Linked DNA regions of Homo sapiens. The protein of the gene in region 6 purifies or fractionates together with the protein of the main gene of each other region. This does not show direct contact. Each region holds a gene or a part of one and is shown on either strand. Other genes may lie near its edges.

Evidence for each region.
Region 1: the proteins of POTEB3 (region 6) and CUX1 purify together in Homo sapiens (affinity purification with mass spectrometry; one large-scale study listed by BioGRID and IntAct). This does not show direct contact.
Region 2: the proteins of POTEB3 (region 6) and FAM83D purify together in Homo sapiens (co-immunoprecipitation; 2 studies listed by BioGRID and IntAct, with this or other methods). This does not show direct contact.
Region 3: the proteins of POTEB3 (region 6) and CKAP5 purify together in Homo sapiens (co-immunoprecipitation; 2 studies listed by BioGRID and IntAct, with this or other methods). This does not show direct contact.
Region 4: the proteins of POTEB3 (region 6) and FAM83B purify together in Homo sapiens (co-immunoprecipitation; 2 studies listed by BioGRID and IntAct, with this or other methods). This does not show direct contact.
Region 5: the proteins of POTEB3 (region 6) and AP1S2 purify together in Homo sapiens (co-immunoprecipitation; 2 studies listed by BioGRID and IntAct, with this or other methods). This does not show direct contact.
Region 7: the proteins of POTEB3 (region 6) and NME8 purify together in Homo sapiens (co-immunoprecipitation; one large-scale study listed by IntAct). This does not show direct contact.

The regions. Positions count from the first base shown.
Region 1 is NC_000007.14:102,202,126-102,205,625, forward strand, and holds part of CUX1 (Homeobox protein cut-like 1), read left to right. Parts: coding exon 1-79; intron 80-2,265; coding exon 2,266-2,431; intron 2,432-2,988; coding exon 2,989-3,045; intron 3,046-3,500. UniProt on the Homo sapiens protein: May be involved in intra-Golgi retrograde transport.
Region 2 is NC_000020.11:38,939,917-38,943,416, reverse strand, and holds part of FAM83D (protein FAM83D), read right to left. Parts: intron 1,459-3,500; coding exon 1,291-1,458; intron 1-1,290.
Region 3 is NC_000011.10:46,797,781-46,801,280, forward strand, and holds part of CKAP5 (cytoskeleton-associated protein 5), read right to left. Parts: coding exon 3,420-3,500; intron 393-3,419; coding exon 303-392; intron 190-302; coding exon 25-189; intron 1-24. UniProt on the Homo sapiens protein: Binds to the plus end of microtubules and regulates microtubule dynamics and microtubule organization. Acts as a processive microtubule polymerase. Promotes cytoplasmic microtubule nucleation and elongation. Plays a major role in organizing spindle poles.
Region 4 is NC_000006.12:54,845,624-54,849,570, reverse strand, and holds the start of FAM83B (protein FAM83B), read right to left. Parts: upstream 2,801-3,947; 5' UTR 2,745-2,800; intron 3-2,744; exon of another isoform or gene 1-2. UniProt on the Homo sapiens protein: Probable proto-oncogene that functions in the epidermal growth factor receptor/EGFR signaling pathway. Activates both the EGFR itself and downstream RAS/MAPK and PI3K/AKT/TOR signaling cascades.
Region 5 is NC_000023.11:15,848,314-15,851,813, reverse strand, and holds part of AP1S2 (AP-1 complex subunit sigma-2), read left to right. Parts: intron 1-3,500. UniProt on the Homo sapiens protein: Subunit of clathrin-associated adaptor protein complex 1 that plays a role in protein sorting in the late-Golgi/trans-Golgi network (TGN) and/or endosomes.
Region 6 is NC_000015.10:21,437,700-21,441,966, forward strand, and holds the start of POTEB3 (POTE ankyrin domain family member B3), read right to left. Parts: upstream 2,801-4,267; 5' UTR 2,313-2,800; coding exon 1,792-2,312; intron 1-1,791.
Region 7 is NC_000007.14:37,847,377-37,851,396, reverse strand, and holds the start of NME8 (thioredoxin domain-containing protein 3), read right to left. Parts: upstream 2,801-4,020; 5' UTR 2,669-2,800; intron 2,574-2,668; 5' UTR 2,341-2,573; intron 1,138-2,340; 5' UTR 1,131-1,137; coding exon 1,098-1,130; intron 1,020-1,097; coding exon 962-1,019; intron 769-961; coding exon 662-768; intron 1-661. UniProt on the Homo sapiens protein: Probably required during the final stages of sperm tail maturation in the testis and/or epididymis, where extensive disulfide bonding of fibrous sheath (FS) proteins occurs.

The DNA.
Region 1 (3,500 bases), on a different chromosome or scaffold from region 6:
GGACACCATCGAGCTCACCCGGCAGGTTAAGGAAAAGCTGGCCAAGAACGGCATCTGCCAGAGAATCTTCGGGGAGAAGGTAAGGGATCTGCTCTGGGGGCTTTGGTTCTCCCATCTCTTCTCCTTGCTGAGGACCAAGTATCTATCCCGCAGCCTGTGACCCTCACCCATTTCAATTCACCCAAGAGCAGAGCGTAAGGCATCCTCTGCTCCCAGACTTCCAAGGTGCGGCTGGTGAACATTGCAGCCCCGATCCCATTTGCCGAGCCCCGACTGCAGCCAGGTTCTAGGCTCAGCCTTTCACCTGCATGCTGCCCTTTCGACCCCTCACTTGGCGCTGGGAAGTGGATGGTAAAATCCCCAATTGACAGGGAAGGACACCAAGGCTTGGGGACGTTAACTACTTGCCCCAAGCTGACCGGCAGCCGAGTCCACATCCAGCTTTTGCTGCCAAGGGGAGCTGAGAGGCACCCCTGCAGGCTTCCTTGGCCAAAAAAAATCCCATCTGATCACACAGAGGGACCACCAGTACGCAGAGAGCCAAAAGGGACTTACTAGAAAAAGCTGCAGAGAGCATTATTGTTCCTTTCTGTGTAACTCTTGGATATTGTTCAGTCAGAGAGGTCAAGCAACCTGCCCGGGGACACACAGCTTGGGGATGGCCCAAGCAGGGTGGCCCGTGTTTCCCTATCATCCTTCCCTGGCTCAGGAAAGTGTAATCGTGCATGGACGAGCTTCTAGGCCTTTCTGTTCTTGGCACTTTCCTGGTCACTGAGATTCAGGAGAATGAGGGTTAACCGTGCCTGCCAAATCTAAAATAAACATCATGTCCTAGTATCATTTTATTTATTTATTTTTTGAGATGGCGTCTCACTCTGTCGCCCATGCTAGAGTGCAGTGACGCTATCTCGGCTCACTGCAACCTCTGCCTCCTGGGTTCAAGCGATTCTCCTGCTTCAGCCTCCTGAGTAGCTGGGATTACGAGTGCCCACCACCACACCCAGCTAATTTTTCTATTTTTAGTCGAGTCAGGGTTTCACCATGTTGGCCAGGCTGGTCTCCTGACCTCAAGTGATCTGCCTGCCTTGGCCTCCCAACCCCCTACCATTTTAGATTAAATAACGGAGTGCTGAATAGAAGGAGAAGCACCCCTCTCCCCTAAAAGGCACCTTCCTGAGGGAGCACGTGGCTGGATCAGCAGGGGACAAATCCCACCCCCTCCCCTGCCAAGCCAGGGTCCCTGCATGGCGCCGTCCCCGCACTCCCCACCCCGCCTTCCACTCAGTGTTTGCCGTATGCTGTGCTGTGAATCCCGGTGGTGTCCGATGGCGAACTTTGCCCTGATTTTGCAAAAGGTGAAGGGGGGCGACTAGAAATGAGGATGAGTATTTCAAGTCCCTTGAGATTTCTAGTTCAGTGTTGTAAAAATACCATTTGAGAACATTGAAATAGACATTCGTGCTCATGCCTTAAATTTAGCAGAGACTTAATAACATTGAACTTGTTTGGCCCGTGAGTGCAGTTTTATTCTGGAACTTGAGAACTTTTCAAAAGAGTGATCGGATGCAGCCCCTAAATATCCCAGGGCGGCATCTGTGTCCTGTGGGGGGTGTTTGTGCCTATACATATGTATGGCCATATGGGAGCGTCAGAAAACTCGGGTGTGTACACGCAACTCGGCAATCATCTGCGGCGGAATGTCACTCCCAGGCCGGCTCCCCAGGTCCCACCAGCTCACCTCTGGGCCCCCACCTTTGATCAGGATGTGGTCAGAACAAGCAGACCTTTCTAAATGCTGGCCTGGCTCAGCGTTTGCAGAGGACACCAGCTTCGCCAGTCCCACCGGCACCCACTGCCCCACCTCTGGAGGGATCTTGTCCCTGGAACCTTAGCCTTTCCCGGTGCCACCAAGTGAAGAGCAAGGTGCTTGTACACACCTCCTCCGCGGGGTGTCAGGGTGACAGCCCTGCCATCTTGGCAGGATCAAGACCCTGGGATGAGACCCTCTTCCCTCCCTGGGAGCTGAGAGCTGTGGCTGTAACCATGGCTCACCCGAAAGTCCCCCTGTGCCGGGGTCTCAGCCACCGTTGATCTTTAAATGCATATTCCCTGCCCACAAGCTGTCACCGCCACCAGGCCGTGGTTCTGTGCTCAGAAGTCAGCCCTAGACGCGCCCTCTGCGTGGTGGGTGTGCATTGCAGCAGCATCTGTGGTGTCATGCTAATAGCCAGGCACTGATGGCCTGTGTGTTCGGTGCCACTCCAGGTGCTGGGCCTGTCCCAGGGCAGCGTCAGCGACATGCTGTCCCGACCGAAGCCATGGAGCAAGCTGACGCAGAAAGGCCGAGAACCCTTCATCCGGATGCAGCTCTGGCTGAACGGCGAGCTAGGCCAGGGTGTTCTACCCGTCCAGGGCCAGCAGCAAGGGCCAGGTAATGGGGGTCCTGCCACAGGAGAGGGGCTGCCCCCCCATAGCAAGGACCTGGTCACAGCAGCCCCACCTGGGCTATGCAGAGAGGGAGGAGGGAACTCCGCCCCAGGAGGTGGCCAACCACACTCCCCACCGTGGGCTGGTGCTGGGGGACAGAACCGTCCCCTTCCTCCACAACCTGTTGCCGTGGGACTGACTTCAGTGTTTAGGAGAGATCATGCCTGTCTAATTTTATAAGCAGCAGAAAATGAGTTACCAATTTAAAAAATGCTGTTTATACATAAATACAGGTAAAAGTCAAGTAGCTGAATCAGGGAGTCAGGAAAGAAAGTCAGCCAAAGGTACAAAAGTGGAAGATGTCACAGGCGAAACCTTTCACCTGCTCCCGGCCCGGGGGCCTGGCCTTGCAACAGCAGCGCCTCCCCGGCCCGTGGGTCCCCATGCCCGCCCCTCCCCAGGAGGAATGGGAAGCCTCCCCGGGCCTTGCCACATTCAGTTAGGAAGCTTTAAGCCCTGGGCCGCGTTCCTTCCTTTAATTATAACCTTTTTCTACTTTAGTCCTCCACTCCGTGACATCGCTCCAGGACCCGCTGCAGCAGGGCTGTGTGAGCTCAGGTAAGCAGCCAGTTTCTGTTGCTTTTGCATGAAATGTCTCACTGCCTTTTCTGTTGTCCCGTGCTGTGGTCTGTCCCGGCGAGACTCCGAGGGACCGCACATTCTGGATTTGGGGAGCTGAAATATGGCATCCTATCTGCAAACGGGGTCCCTCTCTGTGTCAGTTTCTAATGGAGAGCGAGCTGACAGTGCATGGAGGGACTCTGCCAAGATTTGCACGCCCACTGTCATCCTTTGTCGGCCCAGAGCCTTGTGTTCAGGGCTGGGGTCTAAGTCGGAGACAGATTCCCCACTCAGGGGGCTTACCGTCTGATAGGAAGGGATAAAGCACGGGCACACGTCCCTCTCCTGGTGGGGTCATGTCGGGGGACTTCTTATCTAACCGGAAGACATCCAGGCAGCCTCTGAGCAAGAAAATGGGGAGCTTTGAGCTTGAGCAGTGGGAAAGGTAGGGT
Region 2 (3,500 bases), on a different chromosome or scaffold from region 6:
CACTATTTCCTGGTCTAAAACACAGGTGCCACTTACCTGATAGGGGCTGCTTTGAGGATTCAGTTACATAACATTTGTTAAAAGCACAGAGCAGGCTGGGCATGGGGCCTCATGCCTGTAATCCCAGCACTTTGGGAGGCCGAGGCAGGCAGATCATCTGAGGTAGGAGTTCAAGACCAGCCTGGACAACATGGCAAAACCCCATCTGTACTAAAAATACAAAAATTAGCCAGGTGTGGTGGTACGCACCTGTAATCCCAGCTAACTGGGAGGCTGAGGCAGGATAATCTCTTGAACCTGGGAGAGGGATGTTGCAGTGAGCCTAGATTGGGCCACTGTACTCCAGCCTGGGCAACAGAGTGAGACTCTATCTCAGGAAAAAAAAAAAAAAAGCATGGAGCAGTGCCAAAGACAGAGTGGGGGCTCAAAAAATACTGGTTGCTGTGATTAAAAGGGCAGCCTCCTGGAGCTACTGTCAAAAGCAGCAACTTCCAGGGTGGCCTTCAGGCCTTCAACAAGGGAGCTGGTCCAGGCTCTATTAAGAGGCAGGACAGTACAGGGGAGAGGCCAAGGTCTTGAATCCTAACATTTCTTTTAAAGAGCTTAACTGAGATCTAATTCACAGATCATACAATTAACACAAATTCTGTAGTTTTTAGTATATCCACAGATATATGCAACCATCATCACCGTTAGTCAATTTTAGGACATTCTCATCAGTTTAAAAAGAAAGTGCTAAAATAAAGTACCCTTTAGCAATAATCCCGTCCTTCCCCCAACTCCCCAGCCCTAGGCAACCACTAATCAATGTCTCTATAGATTTCCCTATTCTGACTTAATGGAATCATATCATATGTGGTCTTTTGTGACCGGTTTCCTTCACTTAGCACGTTTGCAGGTTCATCCATGCTGTAGCATGTATCAGCACTTCATTCCTTTTTATAGGTGAATAGTATGCTATTGTATGAATAGACAACATATCATTTATCCACTTATCAGTTGATTGGCATTGGATTGTTTCCACTCTTTGGCTTTATGAATAATGCTTCTATAAAACTCACACATAAATTTTTGTGGGGGCCCATATTTTCATTTCTCTTGGGTAGACACCTAGGAGAATTGCCAGGTCACAGGTACTGTTTGTTTTCTGTAAGACCAGGCAAATGACTTTGCTCACAGCCTCAGTCCCTTCCTTGTAAACAGGGATACCGCCACCAGCCAGCTTGTAGATAATGGATGCTTGGTCATATTTGTTGACTATGGTGAAACTGGATATAGTGTACCACAAACCTTTTCCTGTTCAGGATGAACTTTCAGATCCATGCACATATCCAGAAATTGAGAGAGGAGAGCCTGGTCCAGAAGGATATACACAGCAACTCCCTGTTTCCTGCATATTTCTTGCAGGTCTCTGAAGATGTCGATGTCTGTGAACACGTCCATGACCACTGCAATCACCTACAGGTGAAACAGGGAAGAGCACATGATAAGCTTATAGGACACCACCTTACAGCACGCTCTCTGGACTCTGGACTCCACTCAGAACTGGGAAATGATCCCTATCCAACAGTTATCCTTCCCTCCCCCTTCTGCAGTGTTGGTGCCCCCCTCACCATGGACTCTTTTGCATCTCCAAAGACACTTGGGCCCCGTGTCCTAGAAATCTTGACTTGGCCTAGCTAACACTCCCAACTCCATGCTGGGAGGTTTCTCAAAAATACAGATCAATCCACTGCCTTGCTCTCTTATGAACCTGCTCCATTCACCTTCTATTCCTCCACTAAACTCCTGTCTTACAGGCTTATTCAGATCAGCAAGCTGTCTGGTTCTGTGGGTAACACACTGTCATCTTTGGCTTGTTGCTTTCCCCACCAGGCTTCAGTTTGCTGTCCGTTAAACAAGTAAATAAAACCTCAGATTCTCTCTGAGGGCCCTTCTGGAGGGTAGCATTCTCGAAATCTATTTTTTAAATTATTGTCTGGTTTTGAATCATAATCTCTGACTTTTTTAAGGCCTGTCCCATTCACCACCAACTCATGACTCGAAAGCAATCGAAGCAGGCCCATGGATTCTCCCTTCTTCTGCCTCCCTAACACTGCATACCATATTTGTTAACATTCTGTTCTTTCTACCAGCCAGGCCTGATCAGCTGTCTGTTGGGCAGGTTCTAACCAAATGACTTCCACTGCACTGGCCTCTCCTCAGTAAAAGGTTCTCTCTGCAGTTCTTTGGTATCCGTCCATAGTGCAAGCCCACAGCAAAGAACAGGGAAATATTTCCTAAGGATTCTGCCCTTAAGCTCAGAACAGGCCTTTCTTCTCCCCAACAACATGGCTCCATTCATGCCTCCCAAGTGATTTTCCACACCTAGCATCAGACTACAATTAAGAGCTACCTTTTAGCCATGCATTCCTGGGCAAATTACAGCTGTTTCAAATGTCTGTTTCCTTAGCTGCAAAATAGGGTTGTATCGAGAACTAAATGACTATGTTACATAAAGTGCAAGGTACAAAGGATCCCTTAGTATCTGCTCGTTTATTCACTTTACCAGTCCAGAGCTGGAGCCGTCCAGACAGTTCAACACAGGGAGACACCGCCTAGCTTTCCTCGCTCTTTTAAAGACAGGCTGCTCCTGCCACAATGCCTCTAATCACACCTTTTGCAGGCTTAAAACCAAGGTCCTCAGCAAACTCCTGGCAGGGCAGTGGGGGTGTCCAAACCTCCAGGCTTAGAAACAGGTCCTGACAAACTGAGTCAGAAGTTGGGGGTGTTAACTAAGGAAGCCGAGGCTTGGGGGCTCTTCTGTAGTCTGGAGATATAAGGGTTTCTCCTTCCTCCCCATTTCCACAGTAAAAGCCTGTCTCTCAGAATCACATTAACTCTTTTTCTGAAAGTTAGGATTATTCATTTATGGGTTTCACTCCTTCTCCTGCAGCAAAGGCTCTTGAATGGGATTGAGTCATTTCTGTGGTCCCAGAGGACTTAGGACAGTATATGACAGTCATGACTCCTTAAGGATTTGGGGGATTAAAGAAGGAATGAAGAGGCAAAAAGGCAATTTGGCTGTCTTTCTCCAACACTCCAGGGCCTGGTCTACTAGGATGTGAGACCCTGAAACACCAGTTCCTGGGAAGTCATTGCTGTGAGGGGGTTGAGAAGACCAGTTACTCTCCTGCTGCCTTTCCCACCCCACCCCTTTTAATGATGGTCTAAGCTGTGGGCTATTCTTGGTAAAGGGCATGGCTGAAACCCACTGAACACAGTGATTTAAAAAATGAGAAGCGTTCTTTCTGAATTTGTGGCATCCTCTGAAGTTTACATCCTCCACTGGCTTTACACATCCTATTTTGACAGTTCTATTCATCCCACTCATTCGGGTCATACAACAGGAATTAAAGGCAAAAGTTCTGGGCATAGAACCCAGCTCTACCACCTACCAGCTGTGTGACCCTGGGCAAGTGGCTTAATCTCTCTGAGCCTCAGTTTCCTCCTCAGGAAGA
Region 3 (3,500 bases), on a different chromosome or scaffold from region 6:
CCCAACTTCAAAGAGAGTCTGTACCTTAAGTAGTGCAGCACAAAAGGGCTTTAGCAAGCTCTTTGGCAGGGTAGAAGCAGTGCAGTGGCGGAAACTTCTTGCAATAAAAAGAGATGTCTGCTGCTTGATGGTTGGATTTTTATTATCCATTACTGCTAAAACATCCTCACTGATGTTCTGTAGTGTGGTCTTTAGAAAGAAAATGTGGTTAATGAGCTTTTTTCAATTGTAAAGAACAATCAAAATATTATATTTACAAACTTTACTTCAGATAAAACTACAAACTCATGCTGTCAACTTACAGTAAGGAAGATTGCATCAATTGCCTCCTGCAGGGCTTGTACCACTTGAGGTTTCTTCTCTTTGAATTTCTCCAAGATGGTTGGCACAACCTGTAAAAGTGAATGGCTAGCACATTATTCAGCAACAAAGAGGAATGATATATTGATATATCCTAGAACATGGCTGAACCTTAAAAATAGTATGCTAAGTTAAAAAAAAAGCCAGTCACAGGCTGGGCACAGTGACTCATGCCTGTAATCCCAGCACTTTGGGAGGCTGAGGCAGGTGGGTTGCTTGAGGCAAGGAGTTCAAGACCAGCCTGGGCAACAGAGTGAGATCTTGTCTCTACTAAAACAAACAAAAAAAAATTAGCCAGGTGTGGTGGTATGTGCCTATGATCCCAGCTACTTGGGAGGCTGAGGTGGGAGGATTACTTGAACCCAGGAGGTCAAAGCTGCAGTGAGCTACGACTGCATCACTGTATTGTAGCCTGGGCAACACAGCAAGACCCTGTCTTCCAAAAAAAAAAAAAAAGCAGTCACAAAGACCATGTATTGTATGACTCCATTTACATGAAATGTTAAATCCAGAGACAAAAAAGTAGATTAGTGGTTGCTAGAGTCAAGGGCAGGGAGCAGCATGGGGAGAGACTGTTAATGGGCAAGGGGTTTCTTTTTGGGGTGATGAAGATGTTCTGGAATTAGATAGTGCTGATGGTTATGTAACATTGTGAATATTCTAAAATCACTTTAAGAGGGTAAATTTTATAGTATGCAAGTTTTATCTCAATAAAACTTACTTTCTAAAAAACCACCTTGTCTCCACCAAAACAAACCAATAAAGCAAACATTTAAGTGGAATAAAAAGTCATTTCCTTTCATGAAGGACATCGTATCTTATGCCGGAACAATGAAGAATTCTCATTCTCTCCCACTATGGCAGTGCTTCTCAACCTATTTGCCGCCTCTGCTCTGTCACCCACGTGGGAGTGCAGTGGGATGAACATGGCTCACTGAAGCCTCGGCCTCCTGGGCTCAAGTAATCCTCTCATCTCAGCCTCCCGAGTAGGTAGGCCTCAGGTATATGTCACCACACCTGCTATTTTTTTTTTTAATTCTTAATTTCTTGACCATTTCCCTGTAAATATAATTTTTTATTTTATTTTTTGTCGAGACGGGGGTTTCTCCATGTTGCCCAGGCTGGGGAAGAAAATTTCTAAGGTCCAAAGGACACAGCAAAGCTCAATGGCATCCAAAAACAAGAAATAATTGTTTTCAAGATTTCACAGAAGTGGTTATAGACTACTTGGTATAGTTCAAGGACTATGGTTCCCATGGAAAAATACAAGACTTTTTAATACTAGTTATAAACTTGAAAATCAAGATATTTTAATGTCTATAAAGCTAACATTCACTTTTATAAATATTGCCAAAAAGTTTGTAAACATTTAAAGAAAATAAAGCCAAGTCAGTAACATGCTTGATACTAAACACCGCATATATTACAGTATTAAGGTGGGGGAGACCCCAAACTACAGAGCAATAGAGACATTCTTTAACCAGGACAACAAACTGAAACAAAGCCAGAATCAGAACTCAAACTGGAAAGCCAGTTAATTATCCAACCATAATTTGGTAAATTAAAATGAATTTTAGGCCGGGTGTGGTGGCTCAAGCCTGTAATCCCAGCACTTTGGGAGGCTGAGGCAGGCAGATAGCTTGAGCTCAGGATTTCGAGACCAGCCTGGGCAAGGTGGCAAAACCCCATCTCTACCAAAAATACAAAAAGTACTCAAGCATGGTGTGGGGTGTGCCTGAAGTCCCAGCTACTCAGGAGACTGAGGTGGGAGGATCACCTGCGCCTAGGAGGTTAAGGCTGCAGTGAACTGAGATGGTGCCACTGCACTCCAGCCTGGGTGACAAAGTGAGACCCTGTCTCAAAAAAAAAAAACTAAAATTATTCTCTGAACTGATATTTAAGTGGTGTAGGAAAAAATTGTTTTTTATCTTGAAAAATTATTCCCAATATAAAAGTGTAAAATATCCTAAGTAATATAAAATTGATCAAAATGGCATATACACATCGATATTATATAATATTGATTGCTATAAAAATAGATTTTAATTTTATTTCAATTTATGATGTATATGTCTAAGGGTTTTACAGACCCTTATTTTTATTTCCCTAGTAATAAGCCAGTCATGATTTATTTTTATTTGGTAGTGTCTTCTTTTTCTTCAGTTAAGTTCTCTGAGATTATTTTTAATGCTATGAGTAAGCAAGCTCCAAATACCATAGCTCATGTGAGGCTAGGTATTAGCTTCACAATATAAAATGGACACATGACTAGGGACTATTAGGAAACTCCTAAGTCAGTCTAGGGAATCAAATGATGAAGGGGCTAGCAAGCTAAACTCTAAAGATCAATAAGGTCAATTTTTAGGATGCTGAGCCATTCTTAGTAATGCAGACCGGATTTAGAGGCCAAAGGACAGATGCCACAGTTAAAGAAAACATCTTAATTAAAATTATTACCAAATTTGATTGGAAACAAACTTATACAAATAGTAAGTCAACAAATGTCTCCAGTCAGATTTTCTTTGAATAAGTAAAACGGAGATAACCTATATAAAATATATAACATTGTAACCTATATAAAATGTCTCAAATATGTAAGTAAATTATATATTAAAATAGGAAAACAATGTAAAACACATTTTATATATTAACCTCACAGTTTTACATTTATAGTTTTACATTGCCTTTCCGACTCTCATTTTCATTCTGGTCCTGGTCGTTACAAGTTTTGTTTCATCTTGTTATGATGTGTATAATGTTGTAAGAACAAAGCAAGATACTAGTAAGTAAATAAGTAATAAGCAAATAAATAAACTCAACTAAGTACTTTAGGCCTAGTGCCTGACTTTCTACATAAGGCCTATAAATTTTGTTACAACTGACATCTACTGAAATTTCTAAGATATATCTATGCTGAATATTAACAAAACAGAGAGAAATTTACTTTGTACAGTATATACACATCTATGCCAAGGAGTTGTTTTAAAGCAAACAGCAAACTAGGCCTACCATTTTTGATAAATTTTGTTGATCTGTATCTAAAAAGGAGTGTTACTTACATGTCCTGCATATTGTCCAAATTTCTTCCTTAGCCCAACAGCCAGGCCAGTAAGACATTTTGCTGCCAAAGCCACCAACAT
Region 4 (3,947 bases), on a different chromosome or scaffold from region 6:
TCCTTACAGCATCACAGCCCCTGAAAACATCCTTTGCCCCCTCCATCACCCACCCCTACCTTCTGTACATGTTAGCCCCCTGCCTCCTTAGTGCACCCTCCTCCCCAGCATACAGCCCACTTGCCCCCCACTCCACCTCACCTCCACGTATATCCTTTCCACTGGAGCCTACCATTTCCCCCAGCTCTTGTCTCAGGAGCCCACAGCACTCAGCCTCCCAATCCCCTTGGGAAGCCTGCTCTACCCTTAGGGGCCAGGATACTTCTAGACAGTGCCCATGCCCATTGGCACACCTCAGTGGGAAGGAAGCTCCCACTGAAGGCTCTAACACATTTTCTCAGAGAAATGTTGTTGGCTTTGATTCTTGATGGAGTTTAAGTGCTATTTGTACAACTTTTTATCTACGGCATCCTTAAAGCTGGGCTGTGAATAACCATCATTTAGAACTCTGTTTCCATGGGGGAGCGGATGTATTCTGATGTTCAGATGATAAATTCAACAACAAAATTCTAAAATACATTCCATCTCCAGATCAGAAATTAAAGGAACAAAAGCACATTTCAAAATGAACAAAACATTGTGTTTAAAAAGGTGAATTGTGAAACATCCATGGGACATTCACATTTTGCAACTTATAAAGGGACAGACGTGCAAACTTACCTAACTAGATAAACAAGGACAACTTGAAATTTTACCAATAATTCATTAAATTAAGCTAAGTGGCCTCTTTTCAAAAGGTCTCCTCCAACCAGATTTATGTATTAGAAGAGTCCCGCTTTGATGGGATAACAGTTTCACCCCAAGATTCTGGACACTTAAAAGTATAATAACATTACATTTTGGCAACTCAGTATTGTATAATGTAATTAAATGGGAAACAAGTAGGTTAGTTGCTGCAAGGTGAGTCATGGTCAAGAAAATACTCAGTGAATGAACCTCCACCTTAACCTATAAAGAACGGTGGACGGTAGAGGAAATAAAATAGAAAGATTAATAAAATTAATTACTTCATCCCAAAAAAGTTTAGCCAGTTAGCGTCATAAACTCAAGGGCATAAACGTAAAAGACATCACTGAGTCAGCACCAGAGGTGTGGTTTGTCTCCATCTATACAATCTCTTTCAGCAACTGTTCAACTGGTAATGCTTCCCACAATAAATTCTCAGCATCTGCGGTCTAAAGCCTGCCAGCTTTAAAGGCAGGATCCACCCAGCCCCTTAGGCAGGCTCTAGAGGGTGTAGCCAGCACCCTAAATAGGTGTATACCCCACGTGTGCCTGAGCCCCAAAGGCAAGGGGGTGGAATTTGCAATTGGAAGGTGTGGGGACTTCTACTTTTCTGGGAACTATAGGAAGACAGAGAGAAACAAACGCAACAAAGACCTGCACTCCCAACCTTCCATCATTCTGTTTCACATTATTCTCATTCTCCAATCATTTTGAGCCTCCCACCGCCACCCCCACCCCCACTCCAATAAAAAACAAAAAACCCCAGTTTTCTCTTCTAAGTCTCTTTCATCACTCTCTCCCTTCCTGTTGCTTGTCAGCAATGATTCAGCCTCAGTCATGGATTTCCTCGGGGCTCTTGCACTTGTTAGGATGAGAAAGGGAAAGAAGGGAGGTGCCTGCCAGTAACCTAGCAAGATGTTTGTAACTGGGAATTTGGACATAAGCTGTTGAGCATTAAATTCTAGCCTCAATTGCTTGCCACCCGCACACCTTCTTCTTAAGTGTTCTGGCCGCCTGAGCTCTCATTTCCACTTCTAGGTCAGAGAGACCCTATAACTTCACCGCTCCGAGCATAGACAACATGCTAACCTGTGTTTCCATAACCTCCCAGCCTCCTCCTATAAAGAAAGCGCTGTTGTCTCTTTACATACCTATGACTCCTGCAATGAACACAGGCATTCTCTGCCTGTCCATTAACCTTACACAGGTAAGTCTCCCCACATATCACACAGAATAGGCCAAAAGTCTCCAAGTCCCGTTCCAGGAGCAATCTGCTCTAGGCCTACTCTCCTCTTCTAGATCACTCACCAGGATCTAGAGCAGTGGTTCTCAAACTTTGGTAGGTACAGGCTCTCCTGGAGAGCTGCTAGGGCACACAGACCCAGACTCAGGCCGACCCAAGTATGAAAAACACAGGTCGCTACCAGTCTGCACTCAGAAACGGGATCCTGTACAATTAAGAGGTTGTGTGAAAAAACTGTCTTTTCAAGTTCTGCTCCCCACTCAGGATCTAAAGAACACCCACGCCCCTCAGCGACCTAAGCTCTCCCACCTTTTCCCGGAACCCCCCACCCCCATGCCCTCTGCTTCCACCCTGGACTTCCTCCCACGAGACTTTTCCCAGCGGTCTCTCCTCCCGCTTCCCCTCCCGGGGTCCTCGGCGCACTCCTACACTGGAAAAGAGGAAACAAATGCAGCCTCCACGAGGGGCGGCGCCAGTCCTCTGGGGACCCAAACCGACTCCGCCCGAGACAACTTTTCAAACTTCTCAACTCACTCGAACCCCCACGACAATGAAAGAAACGTAGAAAAGACTGAAGCAACTGAGCTTTACACCCTGTGGAATTTCCAATCCCGCCTGCGCTCCCAAGGGAGAGTCCCCTATCCCTCCCGTCCGCCGCGCCGGCCAGGGGCGGGTGAAGCCCCGGGCCCCCCCAGTACCCCAAGCACCTCAACCCTGCACCCGCTGGGGTCCCGTCCGCCGAGGTCCGGGGCAAGGGAGCCCAAACCCCACTTACTTGCCCCAAGCCGCGCGCAACCGCGCCCGCCGCACAGCGCCGGCCGCCGAAGGTTTGCCTCCCAGGAAGCAGCAAGCGCCTGGGCGCGGGCAGGGAGGGGAGGGGAGTTACCTGCCCAGCGTCAGGTCCGCGGAGGGAGGCTGATTCCGGCTCGAACCGCGCCTCCCCGAGACAAGGTGCAGCGCTGGAGGGGGCGGGAGTGGAGACGGGTTACAACAAGTCCCAAGTGGTGGCACGCCAAACCCCGAACAGCCAGAAAGCGCTCGGAACCTGTCTGAACTCAAACACCCTGCTCTCTCCCAGCGGAGTATGAAAAAGCCTTTCTTTCCTGCCCGCCCTCGGGGCTACGGGGCAATTACAAGTCCCGACACCCTGCTCCTGGTCTGGGGCGAGGAGCGATCCCGGAGGACAGCGACGCTCACCTGGGAAGAAGGCGGATCTAGGCCGAGCGGGGCCGTGGTCCCGTCCTCGCTTTTCCCTGGGCTCAAGAATGCCTGGAGGAGAGGCCTGGGGGCCGCGGGTGAGAGCAAGGGTTGTAGCACCTTCGAGAGTGTGGGGCGGATTCAGCCCACAGTAGGTAATTCCAGTGGGCATCCCGCAGTGCAGACTCCTTCTCAGTGCCTAAGAGTCTTTAGGCTTGGAGAGGACGTGGGGAGTGGAAAAGTAGAAGAAAAAGTGCTTGTGCCTTTACTTTTTTATGTAAAAGAATTTCAAATATCATCAAAGATTTTGGTACTGACTCTCAACTGTCCTAGTTACAGATTTGGGATGAAAGGATATTGTTTAAAATAGGGAGATGTGCGTGAAAGCAGGTCCCTCTAGGTGGGATACTGCGGAGCAATGTTACGGAAGTGGAGACACTATAATTTAAACATAAAATACAGTAATTAATAAAATTTATTTTTTAATTTCCTTGCCTACACCTCAGTAAATCTGTCATGAGTATTTATAATAATTTGTGTAATCACGTAGACTTCAAGATAAAGTCATTTGCAGCAAATGTCTAAAATGCAGCCTAGTACTGTAAGAATGGAATTTAGGGTAGTAATAGGCATATTTTAAGCGTCTGGCATAATATATAAATTATCATAAAATTGAATTGACCCTTAAAAATGACTTTCGTGGCGATTTTGCTCCAAATAAAACAGTTGAGGAAAATGCTAAGCCATTAAGGTTTGGATGAATCCCTGACTGACGTGCTGA
Region 5 (3,500 bases), on a different chromosome or scaffold from region 6:
GTTTATTAACTTTTAAGTACCCTTGTTGCTATGGTGGGGGTGCAATTAAATATGACAGATAATTTTTCCAAGGACAGATTTTTTAAAAATTTGATGTTACAAAATGACTCATAGATTGGCTTTTAACACTAAAATTTTTTTAATGCTATACGTCTTTATTTTATAAATATCTGAAACCCTGAATACCCTAAAATAAATTTCTCAAGATTGTTCTAAGTAGGTTAAAAGAAATAAACTTTCTTCTTTTACAGAACATTTTTTGAGGGGACATTTACTTCATTCCCCATTTGTTTCTTTTTGAATAATTTGCTGAATTTAAGATAAGAGCATTTCTGCATATAAAAAGTTCTCTTGTGTGGGGAGTATACATGGAAGTAACAGTATGGGATACAATGAGGGTGGGAGAGAAGTCTGGTTTTCTTCTCAGCTTCCCTTTATTGCACTCCAAATATGGGTTGGATATTTTGTCAGGGAGATGGCTGGGAAGAAATGGAGATTACAAGACATAAGTTTCTTAAATACTGAGGACTCCTCTTTATTATTGAATGATCTTTGGTGATTTTGTATCTTTGGGTGATTTTGTATCCAGTGTTTCGTTTGGTCTTATTAAAGATTATAGAAAAGTCATATCATTTGAGAGGTGAGAGATGTTTTACAGTGATCTAGTCAGGTGATTTTGTTTTGTTTTGTTTTGTTTTAAGCTTTTTGCCCCATGGGTAGAACCTTAAATAAAATGAGTGGAAGTGAGGCTGCTCCTTGTGAAATCAGGAATGAGGATCCTGTATCCTGGCTCACTTGGCCTTTACCCCTCTGCACAGGAGACAGTTCTTGAGTTTGAAAACTGCCGTTGTTGATCAAACTTCAATTTTATAAAGAATGCAAATTTGGGAGAAGTGACTTGTCTAGGGCCATATGCCAGTTAGTGATTGACATGGGGCTGCAACTCAGATCTTAAGCTTAGAGGCAAAGATTTTAAACAGGGCTGGAAAAAGATCAGGTTTACATATCTTAAAAGATTGAACTGAGACAATGGATGAGGGCAGGAGGGGCTGAGACTGGCACCTGCAGGATCAGTAGGAGACTATGTGAGATCCTGAACCCAGGCGCTAGAAAGGAGGGCTGTCACTAAATAGCCATTATCAAATAGGTAGGTTTGATAAGACTTGGTCACCTCTAGAAGTGGGAAGAATATGGGAGGTCGAGGCAGGAGAATCGCTTGAGCCCAGGAGTTCAAGTCCAGCCCTGGCAACTTAGTGAGACCCCGCCGTCTCTACAATTAAAAAAAAAAAAAAAAATTAGCTGGGCGTGGTGGCATGCACCTGTATTCCTAGCTGCTCTGGAGGCTGAGGTGGGAGGATTGATTGTGCCTGGGAGTTCAAGCCTGCACTGAGCCCTGATTGGGCCACTGCACTCCAGCCTAGGTGACAGAGTGAGACCCTCAACGACAACAACAAAGCGGAGAGAGCAGCGAAGGAAAGGGAGGAGTGGGGTGATCTCCACATTTCTGGTTTGCTGATGGGGTACAAGGTGAGCTAGATAACTCGGCTTATTTTGGGGTGAGTTGATTTGGGGATGTCTATGTGACTTTCATTAAGAGAAGCCTGATTTTCTGGTGGGATGTGGTTGGTGTAAGTATGGAAGTCTGGGGAAAATAAGACAAAGTATTAGATCACCAGCATTCAAGTGGCAGGCAAAGGAGATGAAGAAGGGACCTTCAGAGTGGAATGAGAAATTTCACCAATGCCAGATGTTGCATAAAGTTCAATGAAAGTGAGGAAGGAATCTGGTAGATTTTACAGTGAGCATTTCATATAATGCCCTTTGCCAGAACATTTTCAGTGGAATAGTGGAGATAGAACTCTCGATGTAATGGGGCGAAGTGTGAAGAGGTGGAGAAATTTAAATAGCATGTGTAGACTATTTTGGGGAACTTTGCTGTGAAGGACAGGAGACGAGGTGGTAACCACTCATAGACATAGGAGTGGGGGACAAGGTTTTTAAAAAAGAAGGTGTGAGAGGCTTAAGCTTATTTCTAGATAGGGGAAGGAGTCCCCCGTGTGGAGGAGGAAAATACCAGCAAGGGATTCAATCCCAGGAATGGGCTGTTATGGGAAGAAAGGAAAGCACTGCTTGGTGTTCATGCACATGTCACTCAGTCTGTCCGTGTTGAGCCACTACTTTTTCTTTTGAAAGCTACAAAGGGTATCTAATCCAACTCTGATACTTATATCAAGCACCTTTAAATAAAAGGTGGACTTTAAAAAAAACAGCTTTATTGAGATATCAGTCATATACAAAAGGTGGAATTTATCAGTTCTTTCTCTATACGTTCCCCCTTCCATTTCATACTGAAAACCTCATCTACTCTACCACTTACGGACATATTTTTTGTTGGTATAAACAGGTGGTTTGTTTTCCCTACTGCTGGAAGCGAAGAGCTTTTTAAGCAGGAGAATTACTGCTTAGCGCCTGAGAAATTCTGGACTGGGACTTCTGCTGTTCATATCAGCAAGTGATTTTTGTTGTTTTTGTTAAATTATCTCATCTACATTCTTCATCCTGAGTATTTGGCATACAAATTCCCCCTTTTGAGAGGGGAATGATGGATAAGAATAATATTAGCTGAAAAGACAGACTGAAAATCTGGGGACTTAAGTTCTGTTCCCTTTGTAACGTTAGCTAGTTTTATGACTTTAAACAAGTCACTTTGTTTCCTTATCTCTAAATGCTCTTGAAGATCCCTTCAAGACAGAATACTGTGCTTTTTTGATTCCTGTTTTGTGTAGCATTTTGTGGAAGAGTCACTGGATTAAGGTCTTTTAAAATTAATTTAAAAACATATATATCTCCAAATTACTAGCTTGATAATTTGTTAAAGAATACTTACTGATTTTCTTTACTAACAAAAGAATTTTTAATGACATACCAGTGGGTATTGAGAACACTTCAGCTACATTCACCCACAGTCAGCTGATATTTAGCTGATATTTAGCTGACTGCGGAGAAGTCATGTGTTTTGAATATAAGAATAGGCACTTTCAGATGTTCTCTGAGTGCCAGTAATTAGAGTAAGCCTTAATCCACTGTGCTAAAAATAACCAAACATACCTTTCTTCTTACTAGTCTATTATTAATTTTACTTCAGATTTAGACTTACAAATAGGCACTAAGAGAACAAAATGAGCTCATTATTGATTTTTTTAAAACCATTTGGTCCTAAATATAGGAAGTACACTTCAGGTTCTCTTGGTAATCTTTTACTAAATCAGTATGGCATATTTTACTTCTCTTCAAAGCTCTTAAAATATTGTTTCGAGCACATTTTAATTTTTGCCAGGTATGGGATTACGTTAATGCAATTGCTGGCTATAGTTTTTAATGTAAAACTTGGGCTCTAGAGTCAAATTGCTGTTCCTAGGCAGGTTACTCAAACCTGGGTCTCTTATCAATGCAAATAATAATGGTATCTCATGGATACGGTTGTTGTGAGGATTAGAGTG
Region 6 (4,267 bases):
TGGACACAAAACAGTATTTCATTCCTTTATATTTATTTATTTATTTTTATTTATTTATTTTTTTGAGATGGAGTCTCACTCCATCACCCAGGCTGGAGTGTAGTGGTGCAATCTCAGCTCACTGCAACCTCCATCTCCCTGGTTCAAGCAATTCTCCTGCCTCAGCCTCCTGAGTAGCTAGGATTACAGGTGCATGCCACCATGCCCAGCTAATTCTTTGTATTTTTAGTAGAAATGGGTTTCACCATGCTGGCCAGGCTAGTATCAAACTCCTGACCTCGTGATCCAACTGCCTTGGCCTCCCAAAGTGCTGGGATTACAGGCATGAGCCACCATGGCTGGCCTTTCATTCCTCTTCTAACTTAAACAGAAAATAGTCTTTCATTCCTCTTCTAACTTAAATTCCTTCTCTTAGCAGGAATGCTATGTTTTCCTATGTACACAGGTCACTGGTAGACATGCAAAAAAGTACCTTGCCCAATTTTAAATTGAGCTTATTTTATTATATCTGCATATATATGCCGGTTTCAGTGGCTCATGACTGTAATCTCAGCACTTTGGGAGGCTGAGGTGGGTGGATCACAAGGACAGGAGTTCAAGACCAGCCTGGCAAAGATGGTGAAATCCCGTCTTGATTAAGAACACAAAAAATTAGCCAGGCATGGTGGTGGGTGCCTGTAATCCCAGCTACTTGGTAGGCTGAGGCAAAGAATTACTTGAACCAGGAACCAGAGGTTGTAGTGAGCTGATATTGCACCACTGCACTCCAGCCTGGGCTATGGAGTGAGAGTCTGTCTCAGAAAAATAAATAAATATTTGCACATATAAATAGGCATTTGTGTTTTCTTCTGGTACTTTTCTCCTTTTGTATCTTTAAAATTTTTAATCTATACTCCAGGAACTTATTTTTGTGACATAAAAATCTAGGTAGTTTTCTCCAAACAGCATGCATTTAATTTATGAATAATTCACCTTGTTTTACCAATATGAAACATCACCATTATCAAGTGCTAAATTCTTACATATATTTGGGTATTTCTGGATTTCCTATTCTGTTCTGTTCACTTATGTCTTTTCAGCTGTTAGTAAACAATTTGTGGAAATAACACACGCACATTTTGATATCTGGAAAAGCAAGTCTTTTTCCATTCTGTTACAAAAAATCAATTTATCACAATGATAAAATACATCATGTGCAATTTAAAGACACTAAGACTTTGCTATTTTTATTTGGCTTATGTAAAAGTGATAAACACAGAAAAAGCTCACATCTTAAGAAAAACGAACCTTCCTATTCAAAGATATGAACCATACTTCCCATTTCAGTTTCCTTTTAAGGTTACTCAGTAAAGAACGTGTTTACATAGGGTACACATCGATATAAAATCCATATTGGATTTTATTTGAAAAATATTTAGCCCAGAAGTTGATATATTATGGGACTTAGTTCTCAATATACACCTTTCTATAGTGTATAGAACATTGTTTTAAAATGTGTACATTAAAAATAATCTGCTGCATCGACTTAATTTTGCGAGTTAAATCACTTTAAAACCGTCTATTAGTGTTCTATAAGGGAAATTATAATTGGATTGGAAATCAGCTAAAGTTTTGTTTTTGTGTTGCTGTTTATAAAGGGACCTGGGCCCTGACATCTCTGAGGTTTCCACACCCAGGGTGGTGTGGGGCCTGCGGAGGAAGAGAAAGCCTGGCTCCTCCCTCCCTGCGCCAGGAGGGTATGTCCCCATCATCCCCCCATGTCCCGCCTCCTCCCATCCCAGGCCCGGTTACCTCTTTTGCTTGTCCCTCTTGTTCATGTCAGTGTCCCTGAGCATGACGATGAGATCCTTTCTGGGGACTTTACCCCACCAGGCAGCTCTGTGGAGCTTGTCCAGATCTTCTCGACGGACGTGGTACCTCGGCTCCATGAAGGCGCTGTCGTCGTAGTCTCCCCAAGTGCCCACGTTGCTCTTGCCGCTCCCCCTGCAGCAGGGGAAGCAGTGACAGCACCACTTGCCCATCTTGCTCCTGAGTGTCTTCATAAAGGAGTTGTCATGGTCTCCAGAAGTGCCCACATTGCTCGTGCCGCTCCCCCTGCAGCAGGGGAAGCAGTGGTGGCAACACTTGCCCATCTTGCTCCTGAGCGTCTTCATAAAGGAGTCGTCGTGGTCTCCAGAAGTGCCCATGTTGCTCTTGCCGCTCCCCCTGCAGCAGGGGAAGCGGTGGTGGCACCACTTGCCCATCTTGCTCCTGAGATCAAATGGCTTCTTCACAGCAGAGGCAGCGGGCATTGAACAAACCTCAGCCACCATCTGCTTTTAACAGCCAGGGGAGGCCGGTAGTAGCGAACAGATCGCGTCTACCAACCAGTTTCACCAACTAGCAGGAAACCCTGGGTTTCCAATCTGTTTGAAGAGAAAGGTCAATCCCAGCCAAAACTTGCCAAGCCCAGCAAGGGAGCCCAGCCCACCCCACCCAGGGAAAACCCACACCCACCCGGGGAAAGCCCACGCCCACCAGGGGGACCCCACGCCCACCCCAGGAAAGGCCAAGCCCCCCCTCCCAAGGAAACACCCAGCCCAGTCAAGGGAATGCCAAACCCAGCAGAGAAAAGGTCAAGTCCAGCAAAGGAATGCGAGGGAGGAAACGCCAATCCAAGCAAGAAACACCAGGCAAAGCTACTAACAGCCAAGCCAAGCTAGGAACGCAAGGCCAAGCGAGGAACGCGAAGCGAAGTGTACCCGTTACAGGTAAGCCAAGCCGTTATGCGCGTGCGGGGCGCGCGTGCGGGGCGCGCGCCTCAGACGTTATGCGGCGTGTGCGTGAGGCGTGCGCGTGTCATTGCACGTGGTCCAGGAAGTGGCCGATGTGTGCAATCCGCGTGCGCAAGTCTTGGCGCCACAAATGTCAGTGACAGCCTTGCGTTACTGGCAAAGTTCATGGGAGTTGGCCCAGCTTTCTGGCCACTGAGGAGAGAAGCCTGTGGTGGGAAAAAGCCTCTTGAAGCAGGACTGGGGCTAGAGCGCCTGGAACTCGAGGATGCTGACAGCCTCCTCTGAAGAAAGCCCCCAAGACACTAGTGGTGGCGCTGTTGCGGGTGGCCGCCGCTGCAGCTTAGAGCTCTGGTTGGCGGAGCTGGATGCAAATGGCCTCAAAATCTCCGAGCACAAGACGCCCACGGAGCCCAGGGCCTGCCTGAGGCGCCTTCCACACCTGCTCCTCCTTGGTCCGCACCCAGAACACAGGGCCATCAGCAACGGGGCACTCGGGGCCACAGAATCGGGGCTGGGCTGCTAGCTCCTGCTGTGGTGCCCCCTGCCTGGTGTCCAAACCAGGGCCAACAGCTGTGGGGCTTCTGGCCCGGGGTGCTTCGCTTCACTGGCATGCAGTAGGGTTGAGGTGCAGGCCGCTGTCTCCAGGCCTGCAAGAGGGGGCTGGGAGGAGCACCTACCACTGATGGGGAGATGCAGGAAGGCACCCCCACGTGCAGATCCTGGGAACAGGACACTGCCAGCACCAGGGAGCCAGATCGGAGCCTCCCTGGCAGCCTGTGAGCTGGACCCAGGCAGTGGCACCTCTACCCTCCTGCTGGGACCCTCCTGCTGTGCAGGCTTATGCAGCCAGGCTCCAGGCTGCTTCACCCATACTGCAGGTGCTTTGGTGTGGGAGGAAAAATGCATTCTGGCCGGGCACTGTGGCTCACGCGTGTAATCCCAGCACTTTGGGAGGCTGAGGCGGGCGGATCATAAGGTCAGGAGATAAAGACCATCCTGGCTAACACGGTGAAACCTCATCTCTACTAAAAATACAAAATACTAGCGGGCATGGTGGTGGGCGCCTGTAGTCCCAGCTACTCGGGAGGCAGGAGAATGGCGTGAACCTGGGAGGCGGAGCTTGCAGTGAGCCCGAGATCGCATCACTGCAACCTGGGTGACAAAGCAAGACTCTGTCAAAAAAAGAAAGAGAGAGAGAGAGAGACAGAGACAAAGACAGAGACGGAGACAGAGAGACAGACGGAGAGAGAGAAAAATGGATTCTAAGCCTGGGACACCGACCTGCTCTTGCCAACAAAAGCAGAGGGGAAGCCAATTGCAAGTGCAAAAAAAAAGTTTTTATTTCAGTGGGATGAATGTCTAGGTGTGCAGTCACTGGAGTAAACGTCACTGGGACATGCTGTGTAATTCTTTGTGTACATTGCTGAGTTCTACTGCTAATGTTAGCCCATTGCATTCATGAAACTGGTAATTTATGACATCCCTTTTTTCTT
Region 7 (4,020 bases), on a different chromosome or scaffold from region 6:
AAGTTTTACAATAACTCAATGGAGTATCAGTTTGAAAATCCAGATTTAAATTCATTAAAATTAAAAATTGAGCTCCTCAGTTGGACCAGCTACATTGCAAGAGCTCCATAGTCACTTATGCCTAGTAGCTACCATGTTGGACAACGAAATTCTAATTAGTTGATCATTTTATGTGAATAGATTGAAAAAACAGTACAATTCAGTAAAATGTGTTTGGCTATAATATTTTAATCCCTTATTGCAAGTAGGTAGCAAATAAATGAGGAAAAATCATTGCCACTGGAAAATATGGTAACTGGGTTAATGCCAGGGCACTACTCAATGATACCCAGTAAACAGCTTTTGTAGCCCTTATTCTAAAGGACACACACTGAACATGTGGTCAGGTGAAAGGAAACAGAACAATAGATGTGTCCATTATTACACTTTTCTGACTTTCACAGTCATGGTAAATAGCCTCGACGTTATAAGAATGGGATAAAAATCATATTCATTCTCAGATCTAGTAGAATTAAATATATAGTAAAACTGCCAAGTAAAGACTATCTATTTTGAAGAACTGACAGGTTGTTTAAATTAAGACAATACTTAAAGTATTAGAGGATACTTAAAAACTTAATATAATGTGAAAACAGTGGTTTAATGAAAACAAAATTCTTACGACAGCAAAATGCAGAATTTCGTCTTCGTTCAGTTCATTTTTCAATTTTCTGAATAAAGGTTGCATTGCTCTGCAAGGTCCACACCAGGCTTGGTAAACATCAATCACTAGAAGATGATGATATTTATGAAATAACAAAGTCTACCAATCTAGGATAGCAGTTATCCCAATCTGGAGCCATGGCCAGGGCAAAGGCACTGCAGGATTTCTTGGTCAAAGTGGGGACTCTAGAGGGACAGGGTGCCAGGAGGAGCTCCGGGTCAAACCCCAGGTGGCCAGACAGCCGGGGAGTCCTTATACCTGTTAAGCCTTTGTTCTGCAACATCTCATCCCACAGGCTTTGATTATTGATGACTGTCTGCAAAGTGGAAGGCACTGTAAAAGGTATTCAAGCACTAGTGCACCAGATAAAGAATTGTTGATATGTCAGACCCACCTGTAACTGGACTTCTCGTTTTTTGCTTGCCATTTATCTACTATCATAGGAAAAAGAAAGAAAAATTTTTAAGTAGGAAATTTAAATAACATTTTCTTTATGCATGCAAATAACATCTTTTAAAACAATTTTTAATTTTTGTGGGTACATAGTAGGTGTATATATTTATGTATCTCTGTATTTATGTACTTAAATATTTGTGTATTTAAATCTGAGATATTTTGATACAGGCATGCCATGCATAATAATCACATCAGGGTAAATGGGGTATCCATCACCTCAAGCATTTATCCTTTGTGTTACAAACAATCCAATTATACTCTTTTAGTTATTTTAAAATGTACAATTTAGATTTTTTGACTGCAGTCACCTGTTTGTGCTAGCAAATACTAGGTCTTATTCATTGTTCTTTTTTTTTTTTTTTTTTTTTGAGACATAGTCTCACTCTGTTGCCAGACTGGAGTGCAGTGGCACAATCTGGGCTCACTGCAACCTCCGTCTCCTGGGTTCAAGCGATTCTCCTGCCTCAGCCTCCAGAGTACCTGTGACTACAGGCACCCGCCACCACGGCGGGCTAATTTTTTTTGTATTTTTAGTAGATACAGAATTTCACCGTGTTAACCAGGATGGTCTCAACCTCCTGACCCGTGATCCTCCCACCTCAGCCTCCCAGAGTGCTGGGATTACAGTATTCATTCTTTCTAACTGCAAATAACATCTTAATGTACTAGTGAAAAATTTCCCCACTGTACATTGGATTATGCAGTGTCATCTTTGCTGGGGAGAGAGAAGCTAATGTCATGGAAGGACTATTGTATGCTAGGCTCTATGCTAAATGCTTATAGCTGCCACACTATCTTATCCTCCCAACAGTCCTGAAGCAAGGTAAGAATGTTAGGAGTTACACGTCGTCTGGTTTTTTTAAAGGTTTTGTTTTCCTGAAATATTAGAAAGTGTTTCCTATATTATCAATTGCAAACAAATGAACATGCCCGTGGATCTTTCTGGGGTCCCTCTTCAGATCTGGCTGCTCTAAGGATATTTAATCTTGAGAACAAGGCCACTAGTGTTTTCTGGGGCACGACATAAACTTCTCAAACTCCCTATTCAGTGGTATCAGGGGCGGTGTAGAACAGGGGTCAGTCAGCGTGCGGGCGATAGTGCACGCTAGCGTACAACAAAGGAAAAGCCACAAACAAGACTGTATTCCAGGAAAGGTGCTGGTTGCTCCGGCAAGCCTTACACAAAACAGGTCCTCCTCTAAGCTAGACTGGGACGTTTAAAGAAAAGGAAGGAACAGGCCCAGAGGATCTAAATCGGCTCCCTCGTTGTGGCCGTTTGAGCGGTGACCTCGGCGAAGTTCCATTCCAGTACCTAGGACCCTGGTAGGGCCCGAGGCTGAGGCTAGCAGGCCTCCTGCTGGGCTTTCTTCTCCAGCTGATTCAGCAAAAGGAAGAAGAGGGATTCCCTGCCTGTCTGGGAAGAAGAAGGGGGGCAATGTTTTGTCCAACCCATCTGCCCGTGAGACTTGAGCGGCGTCTCGAGGCCCCTGCTCCAGACAGCAGCTATACCTGGGCAGTGGGGACAAGACCAGGTGGCGCCTAAAATCCTCCACCTCTTCTGCCCACACAATGAAGGAACAACGAAGTCCTGGTTCCACCATCACAAGACTCTGTTCTTCAGCTGCCTCATCCCCAAACTCCCATCCCCCATCCTCCCATCCCTACGTTCCTCTATCCCCAGATGCGCACCAAGGTGCGCTTTCCCAAGTGCAGATTTGATCATATCTCTCCTCGCCTTTGAATCCTCCTGTGACTGGCCACGCTTTACAGCATAAAATGCATACACCTCAAATCGGAGCAGAAGGCTCTCTGCCAGCACCAGCCTTTTCTTTCTTTTTAACTTTGTCTTCATCTACCCTGGTTTGGTTCTTCTTGTTCTTCTTGTTCTTCTTCTTCTTCTTCTTCTTCTTCTTCTTCTTCTTCTTCTTCTTCTTCTTCTTCTTCTTCTTCTTGTTCTTCTTCTTCTTCTTCTTCTTCTTCTTCTTCTTCTTCCTTCTTCTTCTTCTTCTTCTTCTTCTTCTTCTTCTTCTTCTTCTTCTCTTCTTCTTCTTCTTCTTCTTCTTTCTTCTCTCTTCCTCTTCCTCTTCTTCTTCGTCTTCCTTCTTCTTTTCTTCTTCTTTTCTTCTTCTTCTTCTTTTCTTCTTCTTTTCTTCTTCTTCTTTCTTCTTCTTCCTTCTTCTTTTTCTTCTTCTTCTTTCTCTTCTTCTTCCTCTTCCTCTTCCTCTTCTTCCTCTCCCTCTTCCTCCTCCTCCTCCTCTTCCTCCTCTTCCTCCTCCTCCTCCTCCTCTTCTTCCTCCTCTTCCTCTTCTTCTTCTTCCTCTTCTTCTTCCTCTTCCTCTTCTTCCTCTTCCTCTTCCTCTTCTTTCTTCTTCTTCCTCTTCTTTCTTCTTCTTCTTCCTCTTCTTCTTCTTCTCCTTCTTTCTTCTTCTTCTTCCTCTTCCTCTTCTTCTCCTCCTCCTTCTCCTTCTCCTTCCTCTTCTCCTTCCTCTTCTCCTTCCACTTCTCCTTCCTCTTCTCCTTCCCCTTCCCCTCCTTCTCCTCCTCCTCCTCCGTCTCCTCCGTCTCCTCCATCTCCTTCATCTCCTTCTTCTTCTTCTTCTTCTCCTTCTCCTTCTCCTTCCTCTTCTCCTTCCTCTTCCCCTCCTTCTCCTCCTCCTCCGTCTCCTCCATCTCCTTCTCCTTCTCCTTCTTCTTTCTCCTTCTTCTTCTTCTTTCTTCTTCTTCTTTCTTCTTCTTCCTCTTCCTCTTCCTCTTCTTCTCCTCCTCCTCCTTCTCCTTCCTCTTCTCCTTCCACTTCTCCTTCCTCTTCTCCTTCCTCTTCTCCTTCCTCTTCCCCTCCTTCTCCTCCTCCTCCTCTGTCT